Regions from separate parts of the Homo sapiens genome. Here region 2 is linked to region 1. Evidence: fine-mapped expression QTL. A gene starts in region 1. The other region holds a variant in brackets. All regions are shown on one strand. Distances are between the middles of the regions.

Region 1 (5,385 bases):
GTATACCTGACAAAATGTTAATAATAGTTATCTATCATGGTGTTATAGGTGGCTTTTCTTAGTAACTTTCTATTCTTTCTCAAGTTTGAGGGGGAAAACCCCATATACACATTGTCCTTATAATTAAATAAAAAATAAGGTTTTTAAAAGCAGAATACAGCCCTACCAAAACAAAGCATCCTGATATTTGTCTGCAAGCTACATATAGAAAAAATGAAACCATCTCTACTCCCATGCCTTCAAACAAAAAGGTTATTCAAAATTACATGTAAATTCACACTTACATACATGAATGAAACATGAAACACATAAAAACACACCTATCTTCAGGATAGTAAGGAGATACTATTCCCTAATTTGTCGCTGTGTTCCTGTTAGCATAATGAAACAGATCCTCGGGAAACACACCTTGTGGGCATTCTCTAATCTAAAACATATTTAAATATGGAGTTAACAAATCCTGAACCACCACACAACTTTTCCAAAAATGTTCCAAAGGATACAAAATTTAATTCCACAGAATAACACCTTGGTCCTAATGCTTTCCCTTAAAGGGTGTGACATTTGACAGGTGTTTTCCTTAATTAAAGTCTGTGCAAAAGTGGAAGGATAAGCTTAGGACAAGTTTCTTTTACATGAGTATGCTAAGGCACAAGAGAAATTTTTAAGTAATTTGCTAGAGATTAGAGGGGAGGAGAGGAACAGCAGAAAGGATAATTTATTTTACATACAATCCAGCGTTTTTTCTACTATACTATTTTTGCATTGAAAAGGAGATACCAAACAGTGCCAGACTTTTTACAATGTGACTTCAAAGTAAGAGAGTCATTACACATAGGTTAACAGGAATTTTGGGTTTTCATGCAAATGTTCAACTAGGTTGAACTAGTTCAATCACTACGGCTATGAATCTTCTATTTAAACATAATAGAGAATCCTAATGTTTTTCATTCATCTTATTTCTAAGTAATTCAATCTATTCTAGTCCTGATTACCTAATACCGTCTAATGCAATCCACATTAAGTATTTACTCTAGAGAAATTCTTGTACTTGTGTACCAAGAGCCGGAAACAAGAAATGTTCACAGAGCAAGACTGCTTATAACAAAACAAAATAAAAAACAATAAAAACACGGTCGAAGTGCCCATAAGTTATGGCAGATTAACATATCATAAAGCAATGAAATAAACTACAGCCACATACTATTTTTATAAAGCTCAAAAGAAAAACAAATTAAATGCCACACAGTTTCGGCATACAAACATATATGATAAAACTATTTTTCAAAAAGTCAAGGAAGTGACATACACAAAATCCACTGCACAGATAAGAAACTCATAGACAAATGCAAGTTTTAGTAATGTTCCAGTTTTGGGTTTGGGGGGAGTCATCAAGGATTTATGATGTTTTTATCTGCTTATACTTTACCGTGTTTTTTTTTGGTAGTATTAAATATATTTTGGTTACTTCTTAAAAACGTTACTGACATATAGTTGACAATAAACTGCACATATTTGAAGTGTAAAACGTGTAAGTTCTGACATATGCATACACCCAAAAAGTTATCACTACAAGATAATAAATCCACCGACCCCTGTATTTTCTCCTGCACATTTGTGATGTCTCCCTTTAAACACATTTTAAAACGTAAAAAAGTAAAAATAAAAAAGACAACTTGTTTTGGAAAGCTAAACGTGCATATTTTGCAAAACATTTCCCCTAGGGCTCTGGAGAAACTATACACAACTCAGAAAGTGCCTTAAAATTGGTGACATGGTTACCGAACAACTAACCTTAAAAGTTTATGGTATTTTACACTTTTAAAAAATCAAATTCCGATTTCGGTTTGAAAGAGGAATTTAATCCTGTTTCTCGGAGCTTCAAAATCATTAATTCTGCCCGGCTTTTTTTTGAGACGGAGTCTCCCTCTGTCGCCAGGCTGGAGTGCAGTAGCGCGATCTTGGTTCACTGCAACCTCCGCCTCCCGGGTTCAAGCGATGCTCCTGCCTCAGCCTCCCAGTAGCTGGGACTACCGGCGCCCGCCACCACACCCAGCTAATTTTTGTATTTTTAGTAAAGACAGGGTTTCACCATGTTGGCCAGGATGGTCTCGATCTCCTGACCTCGTGATTAGTCCGCGTCGGCCTCCCAAAGTGCTGGGATTACAGGCGTTGAGTCACCGCGCGTGGCCAATTCTGCCCAGTTTTTATGGCCCAACAACTTAATATAAATTATCTTTAGGTAACCCCAAGGTCCTAACTTCCTCACAACTGGTTACAACTTCCGAGATGTGAAGGTAAATCATAGCGTCCCAACTGTGTAGGATAGTTAGCACGTGACTTAAAAACCAAGTTAAAAAGATTTCAAACACAATATTCTTTCATACTTTTTTAGGTAGCTAAAACTTAAATATAACTATTTCAAAAAAGCAGACAAAAAATTTAGAATCCTAAGCAAGCTAAACCCAAGCAGGAAAAAAAGAGACCAATTCCCTTCCCGGTGCCAGTCAGGAGTTGGAGACACCGGGCTGCCTCCGGCTGGTTTCTGAAAAACGCCGCAGGTGGAAAAACATCCCGAAGAGGACCTGAGACTCGGAGGAGGCGGGGAACTGACGCGCCCCAGTGTGCCCGGGGCCCTTCCGACCCCCGCCAGCCAACCGCTCGCAACCCGCTCGGGGCGGCGCGCGTCGCGGCCTCCGCGGCCCTGAAGAACTGAGGCTCCCGACCCCAGCGCGACCACCCTGACAGGAAGCGGCCCCCGGCCGCGGGCGCCCGCGCGCCGTCTGAGGTGAACCCGCCGATCTCCGGCCCCCACCCCCGGAGCCGGGAGTCCTCGCCCTCTCGCCCGCGGCCCCCGCGGGCCCACCACCTGCTGCGCCGGCCGGCCGCCCTCCGCTTCCGGCTCTCGGGCGCCGGGAGGGGCCGGGGGCGGGCCTCGCCTAGCTGCAGCCGGGTGGGGGAAGGGAGCAGGCGGGGGAGGGGCAGCGCCGGGCAAGCCGGGCCCCGCGGGCCGCGCTCCTCACCTGGCGGCGGGTCTCTCCGCCTGACACGCTGCGCGCCGCCGCCGGTAGCCGCCGGTGAATGGGTACAGGTAATGCCGCCGAACCCCTGCTTGCTCCGGCTCCGCCACCGCCGGCCCCTCCGTCCGCTGTTTATTAAACTTTTCTGTTTGGTTGTTCGGCCTATGACGCGACCGCGGAGGAGAGCCACTGGATTGGCCGGCTCCCGCGGCTGACGCGCGGGCCCCGCCCGCCCGCTAATTATTACCGGCGCGGGCGGGGCCGCAGGCCGGAGGAGGCGGGGAGAGGCGGGGTCAAGGCTCGGAGCGCACGGCAATTGGCCGGAGGCAGGAAAAGAGGCGGGGCGGAGCGAAAGGAGATGCTCCTCCGCCTTCTGCACCTCCAGTGTCCCTTGCTCCACTGCCCTCTCTGGGGCGCTTCCCGCCGCGGTTTCTCTACCTCCAATAGCTACGGGAAGGCGATTAAGAGGTGCCGCGGAGACTTTAAGGGCTTGGTTATGTAGGTTCAGGTACCTTTGCCACCTCGCAGGGAATGGCGTGTCCCTGTCTTGGACTGAGGCACCAAAAAGAGTTGCACTCCACCTGCCACTTGTGCAGGAAGGAATTCTGAGCTTCTGTCTTCCCATGCAGGCCGGCGCCTCAGTCTGCAAGCGCAAAGTCCGAGCTCAGGGCGCATACTGGAAAGCAGTTCTCTGCCCTGTCCTGAACTGGGACTTGGAAATAGAAGCAAGACGAGAAGCGTGCATGCACACGTGTGCAATACATACATGCACAGGCACAAGCACCCCCAGTTCCAGCCTGTTCCAAAAGCACGGGGTCAGTTCCCACCTGCGTGGTGCACGCTGGGCTGCTGCGCTGGAACTAGGGGTGATAGGCAGAATGGCTCCCCCTGAAGTTTTTCAGCCTTCGTTCGGGCTCACGAGCATCACGAGCAGGAAGTACGTGACACTTTAGTTCGAGGTCATTCAATCCTATTGTGAATGAGGAGTTCCGTTAGGGCATCCAGGTAGGCGAGCCCAGTCCTGAGAATCCTCTTTATTTTAAATGTTGGTATTTTGTTATTCATGGATTTTTTTTTTGCATTAATTTTAATTTTAAAAAATAAAAATGTTATTCATCTTGATCACTTAGTTTTTTGGTGCTCCCTTAAATGTTGTGCCTGAAGTGAGTACCTGTTGAGCATTTAGCAACACAGAAGTCACCTTGGGGAGTACAGTTTAAGTGGAGGACAAAAGCCTGATTGGAATGGTAATAAAACCTACTTGTTAGGCTATTTGTGGGGGTTAAATAACATAATATGTGTGAAAGAGCTTCTTGAACTAGCAAGGTTATGCGTCAAGTCTTACGGATTTTGTCTTAAATGTATTTTTCTTCCGATTCTTGTCCAGTTTATCGTTGTATTAACTCCAGCACCTAACCCAGTTGGATTTTCATATGCAGTTATTATGAATTTGCAGAAATTGGGTTTACATGACCTTTACTGCTTTCCTTTGTTCCAGATTCGTTCTGGGAGATTGAGAGATTATAGTATTGCATTGTGACGTGGAATGCAGACAGACCACTGTCACTTACTAGCTTTGTGCTCTTAAGAAAATTGTGTGAAATGGGAACGAAAACCTACCACAAAGGATTGTTATGAGGGTTAAAAGATACTGCATTTCTATTCACCCAGTAAATGCTATATGCCGACTCTCTGCCAGCCTGTGCTGTAGGTGCTGGAGACAGCATTAAGAAAGATGAAGGCCCTTCTCTCATTGACTTACACAGGGGAAGAGAGGGAGCAGAAACAATAAACAGTATACATACGCAACCTACCGGTCAGTGTACATAAACAACATATTCACAGCACCTGGTATGTAACAGATGCTCAATAAATGATTGTGTATGCATTATTATTTCCAGCCCCATCTTCTTTCCTGTGTTCCAGAGCAGGACATTCACTGTGTGCTTATCACAGCCATTCAATATGTCCAAGGCTTATTTTCCCCCAAACACATTCTTCCTCCTGTAGTCCCAATTTTGGCTAATGGTGACACCATGTTTCCAGTTATTAAAGCTAGAAACTCAAGCTTTATTGAGATTTAACACACATATCATTACAACTTACCCATTTTTAAAGAATACAATTTGCTGGGCGCGGTGACACATGCCGGTGGTCCCAGCTACTCAGGAGGGTGAGCTGGGAGAATTGCTCGAGTCCAGGAGTTCTGGGCAGTAGTGCACTGTACCCACTGGTGTCCACAGAGGGTGGGGGGCACCATCAAGTTGCCTAAGAAAGAGGACTCTGCCCAGGTCCAAAACAGAGCAGGTCAAAACTCCTGTGCTGATTAGTAATGGGATCATGGCCATTGCACTCCAGCCTGGGC
Region 2 (5,385 bases), 89 kb before region 1:
AGAAAGAAAAGAAGGAAGACAGGAAAGAAGGGAAAGGCAGACTATCTTAGGGTGGGTTCAAGGTGTTATCTAATCACTCATGTGCAGTCAGCTGCAGTTTTTTGAGACCATGCCACAGCCAGGACACTTGGAACACACCGGAGAGTGTGTCGTTGTGTTATTGTTGGTGTGAATGATTCAGGTACACTTTTAAACAGCCAGGATGCCGGCTGAAATCTAGAAAAGTAGACGATAGTCTGGGCAAGGGTTCCCTGAAGATCCTTGAGGAATGTGACACAGTGACTGCTGAGTTAGGGAGGCTGCTCCGCATTTCAGCTTAGGGAGAAGAGGCTGGAAGATGGCAGGATAATGTGAGCTAAGTGGGCTTGAAACCAGACGGCTTGAGAGGAGCGAGTACGGCAAGCAGGGCCCGCTGTTGAGCCCCCCTTCCTAGCCCCTGAGATCACTCTGGTGCCTGTCCACCAGGCGTGACCAGTGATCATCACCCAGTAAGGAGTGTAATCTGGGCACAGCCTCTTGGCTCTCATCTCCTGCCCTGAGTGGCTCTGCCAAGGACTGGCTTCAGTTCTTTTAAGTCAGCCCTGGGGAGGGAATGAAGGTGGTCTGATTTGTTCTGGTAGGTTCCTGAAAGAGGAAAAGAAGAGGAGAGTATCCCAACTTGGTGGCCTTATAAAGAGGCATTCCAGGGAGCACTTGATACCTGCCTAATTCAAGCTAGTCCTCAGCTGCAACGCAATGAATTATTTCCACGTTCTGTAGTTGCCCTGCCCCTTCCCATTAAAACCACGAGCTTTCTTATTCCATGTGCAACTCTGTCAATACCCAGCAAAACACCTGGCACAGAATAGGTTCTCCATAAATACATGTCATTAATATAAAACTGTTGACCAAAAGGAAATGAAGCAATAACTAATAAGCCCATGCCCTATGCCAGGCCATGGGGATACACCAGCAACTCACATCTTTAATTCCTGTTTTTATGGAGCATGTGTTGTGTGGGGGATGCTAGGCCAGGAGCTTCTACTGAATACATACAAGTTAACAAAAGCCTAAATGATAAAACCCTTGGAGAAAGAAAACCAAAGTATTTTAGGGAAAGGACATGGGGCAGATGTATGTGTAGGAAAGGGTGTGGGGATGAGATGGCTAAAGAGGGAGTAAGATTTCATAGTTTTAAAATAGACTTAACCAACCCACTAATTATACACAGTGTCTGAAAACGCCAAAGCTGTTCTCTATTTGGAAAACAGCATTTGAAATAACTTGCAAGTATACTATATTTTTTCTTTCTCATTTTTTGGAAGAGAATGTGTTGGCCACGTATATCACAACAATTATTTAAAAAGAATTTTAAAACAAAGAGATTGCCCATAATCCCACCAATGTAGTCTTCTCATTTTCATGTTTTTTTTTCATTCCATTTGTATGCACATGGCTTTTCCATCCTTATAAACTTTACATAGATGCAATTTTTCAGTCTTTCCCTACCTTATTCTCTTGAATATTTTTCCTTGAGGCCCAATAGGCTTTATTATGATCATTGTCATTAGCTAAGGAAGTCGCAATGTTTTAGATGGTAATAATAACGGTTCAATGAAGAGGTGCATGCACAGAATGTTTTCCTTTTCCTTGACAATTATCTAAGGAAGATTCCTGACTCAAAGAGTATGAACACTTTCAGGACTCGCAGTGAGTTTCAGCATCTCCAGCAATGAAGGCTGGTTTGGGTCTCTGTAGCACCATATTTAATGCCTCCCTCTGATGCTAAAAAGCAACACACTGCACTGCAGCCCTCATTCACACAAAGCATGTCCCTCACTCCTTTACAAGAGAGCTGAGAGAGAACTTTCCAGATCCAGGACACTAATGTCTTGCAACGGCTCTGAGAAGCTGGCAGTTGCCATTCAGATAAGCAAGGTGTGGACGCTGCCTGCACTGGGAAGCAGGATGGGGTGGCCTTTTTTGCAACATTCAGCACTGCTGCATGGTCGTCAAGAAAAAGAGGAAACTATGTCAAAGGCCAAGCACTTTAGCAAAGTAAGTGTCCTCTCTTTTTCAGGTCTGAGCTCAGTGATGTTTATGGTACACATTTTGTAGTGGGCATCATGGGTTTGGCATGTGTCCAGTACATTTTAGTATCAAGAATATATGTCATGTGCAAATATACATGACATTCTGTCCTCTCAAAGGAGTTCAAAATTTAGAGGATCTTGGAACTGAACGTAAGTAATTCAAGTGCAAGTGCATGTT[G/A]TAGGGTGGGGAGAAGGGGATTGGATGAAGTCCTAGGTGAACCAGCTCAACCAGGGCTAGGTTTTCTGCAATATAAATTTTCTTCTTCCTGCCCTCTTTAATTCTGTCTTTAGTCTGTTTCAGGTACTATTGTGTCTATGTTCTGATGGAATACTACCTCAAATCCATTTTGGATTTAAGCTGGATTTGCAAGACTCACAAATAACAAGCAGCACCTTAAATAAAGAACATGTCATTGCCATCTGACTTAATAATGTGTACCATATAATGAGTTCTCTGTTACCATTATCAAAGCAGGAGCCACTTTTTAGACTCTCCCTCACTGTTATTTCAACAAAATACTTCTAATTTTGTTTTGTTTTCTTATAACTAAATACATATTCAATAGTTTTCCCATCTGAATTATCCCTTTTTTCCCATCCAAATGTTCGGTGCCTTTTTGAGCTATAGCTGTGGATCCCACTCTGCTCCCAGAAATACAGAGGAATGTTGACACATAAGTTACAACCTCTGTATTCAACCTGTTTGGCACAGCTGAATAGATCATTCTCAGTGCCTCTCTCTGCAAACATTGTTTAGTTTGTCAACAATAAATCCACACTAAAATTTCCCTGTCTCTCTTTCGCTCTCTCTTTCTCTCTCTCTCTCTCTCTCTCTGTCACACACACACACACACACACACACACACACACACACACACTAAAGTTGGTTAGGCATGATTTTTCCTTGTGGCCCTTTCCCTAGATGTTGAACAAAAGGAAACAGTATGTGGTAACAGAATATATATGTCTGTTGTTGTTGTTGTTGGTTTGTTTTTTGTTATGTTTTGTTTTGTTTTGTTTTGTTTTGTTTTGAGACAAAGTCTCGCTCTGTTGCCCAGGCTGGAGTGCAGTAGCACGATCTCGGTTCACGGCAACCTCCACCTCCCAGGTTCAAGTGATTCTCCTGCCTCAGCCTCCCAACTAGCTGGGATTACAGGCTCACACCACCACACCTGGCTAATTTTTGTATTTTTGGTAGAGATGGGGTTTCACCATGTTGGTCAGGCTCGTCTTGAACTCCTGACCTCGTGATCTGCCCACCTCAGCCTCCCAAGTTGCTGGGATTACAGGCGTGAGCCCCTGCACCCAGCTGTAAGAATATATATGTTAAGGTTTCAAATAAGAAAGATTTGAAATCTCTTTCTAGAACGTTCATATTGAGTTTGGGTTTAGGTTACTGTACCTCACCAAATCTTAATTTCATGCATTGGAAAAATGAAATAATAAAAACGATACCTGCCTTGTAAGGTTGTTTAGAAGATCAAATAAGAAAACCCCTGCAAAAACTCTCAGCATATTGTGGGACACACAGAAAGTTCTCAATAAATGTCAGCAATCCTGTTTTCCTCTTCCTTACCTCCCCATCACTAATGTACATAAAAGTATAACATGCAACATGAGAAGTAGATTGACTCTGTCTAAGAACATCCTGTGTGAGAGCATTCTGTCCTGCCCTCCCTCCTCACCAGGATTCTGATTGTTGTTGTCAGATGTGTTCCACATCTCAGCGGCTGTCTGGGACAACACCTGGAGAATTCTTTTTTACTTTTTTAGCTGACAAATAAAAATTATACATATTTATCATGTAAAACATGTCATTCTGAAATAGGTACACATTGCACAATGGCTAAGTTGAGCTACTTAACATAAACATTACCTCACTTTTCATTTTTTTTGTCCTGAGAACATTTGAAATCTACTCTCTTGGCAATTTTCAAGAATATAATAAGGCCAGGCGTGGTGGCTCACGCCTGTAATCCCAGCACTTTGGGAGGCCAAGGCGGGTGGATCACAAAGTCAGGAGATCGAGACCATCCTTGCTAACACGGTGAAACCCCCTCTCTACTAAAAATACAAAGATTAGCTGGGTGTGGTGGCACGTGCCTGTAGTCCCAGCTACTCGGGAGGCTGAGGCAGGAGAATCACTTGAACCCGGGAGGTGGAGGTTGCAGTGAGCTGAGATTGCGCCACCGCACTCCAGCCTGGGCAACAGAGCAAGACTCAGTTGGACTAAAAAAAAAAAAAATACGGTTATTAATTATAGTCAGCATATTTTCCAATAGATCTCTTGAACTTATTCCTCCTATCTGAAATTTTGTGGGCTTTAACCAATATCTCCCCAACCTCCCAGCCCTTACCCCCTGGTAACCATCATTCTATTCTACTTCTGACTTCAACTTTTTCTGGGATTCCACATGTAAGTGAGATCATGCAGTATTTGTTGTTCTGCATCTGGCTTATTTCATTTAATATAATGTCTTCCAGCTTCATCCATGTTGTCATAAATGACAGGATTTCTTTTTATGGCTGAATAGTATTCCATTGTGTATACAAACCTTTTGTTTATCCATTCATCTGCTGATGGACACTCAGTTTGATTTCATATCTTGGCTATTGTGAATAATGCTACAATGAACATGGAGGTGCAGGTATCTCTATGACATACTGATTTCATATCCTTTGGATATATACTTAGCAGAGGGATTGCTGAATTATATGGTGGCGCTAGTTTTAATTTTTTGAGGAACCCCTATGTTGTCCATAATGGCGGTACTAATTTACATTCCCACCAACAAAGTACAAGGGTTCCCTGTTTTCCACAGCCTCTGCAATACTTGCTGTCTTTTGTTTTTTTGATAATAGCCATTCTAACAGGTGTGAGATGATATCTCATCGTGGTTTTATTTTGCATTTTTCTGATAATGATGTTGAGCATTTTTTCACATACCTGTTGGCCATTTTTATGTCTTTTGGGAAATGTCTATTCATATCCATTACTCATTTTTTAAGAATTAGGTTACTTGTTTTCTTGCTATTGAGTTGTTTGACTTCATTATTTATTTTAGATTCTAATTCCATATCAGATGTGTGGTTTGCAAATGTTTTCTCCCACTTCCTAGGTTTTTTCTTGTCGATTGTTTCCTTGGCTATACAGAAGCTTTTTAGCCTGATATAATCGCATCTGTCTGTATTTGCTTTTGTTGCCTGTGCTTTTGGGTTCATATCCAAAAAATCATTGCCCAGACCAATGACATGGAGCTTTTCCCATTTTCTTCTAGTTTTACAGTTTCATTTCTTAAGTTTACGTTTTTAA

Evidence for each region.
Region 2: its variant is fine-mapped to the expression of ZFAND6 in whole blood (INTERVAL, PIP 0.97).

What each region holds. Positions count from the first base shown.
Region 1 is chr15:80,057,448-80,062,832 of GRCh38, reverse strand. ZFAND6 (zinc finger AN1-type containing 6) reads right to left here and starts at 3,157. Exons shown (of 7, transcript NM_019006.4): 1 at 3,024-3,157. RefSeq lists silencers at 2,585-3,454, 3,151-3,479.
Region 2 is chr15:80,146,412-80,151,796 of GRCh38, reverse strand. No RefSeq gene overlaps it. Among named protein-coding and RNA genes, the nearest start is that of FAH, 3.9 kb to the left of the region's middle. The variant G/A (reference allele first, on the strand shown) is at 2,251.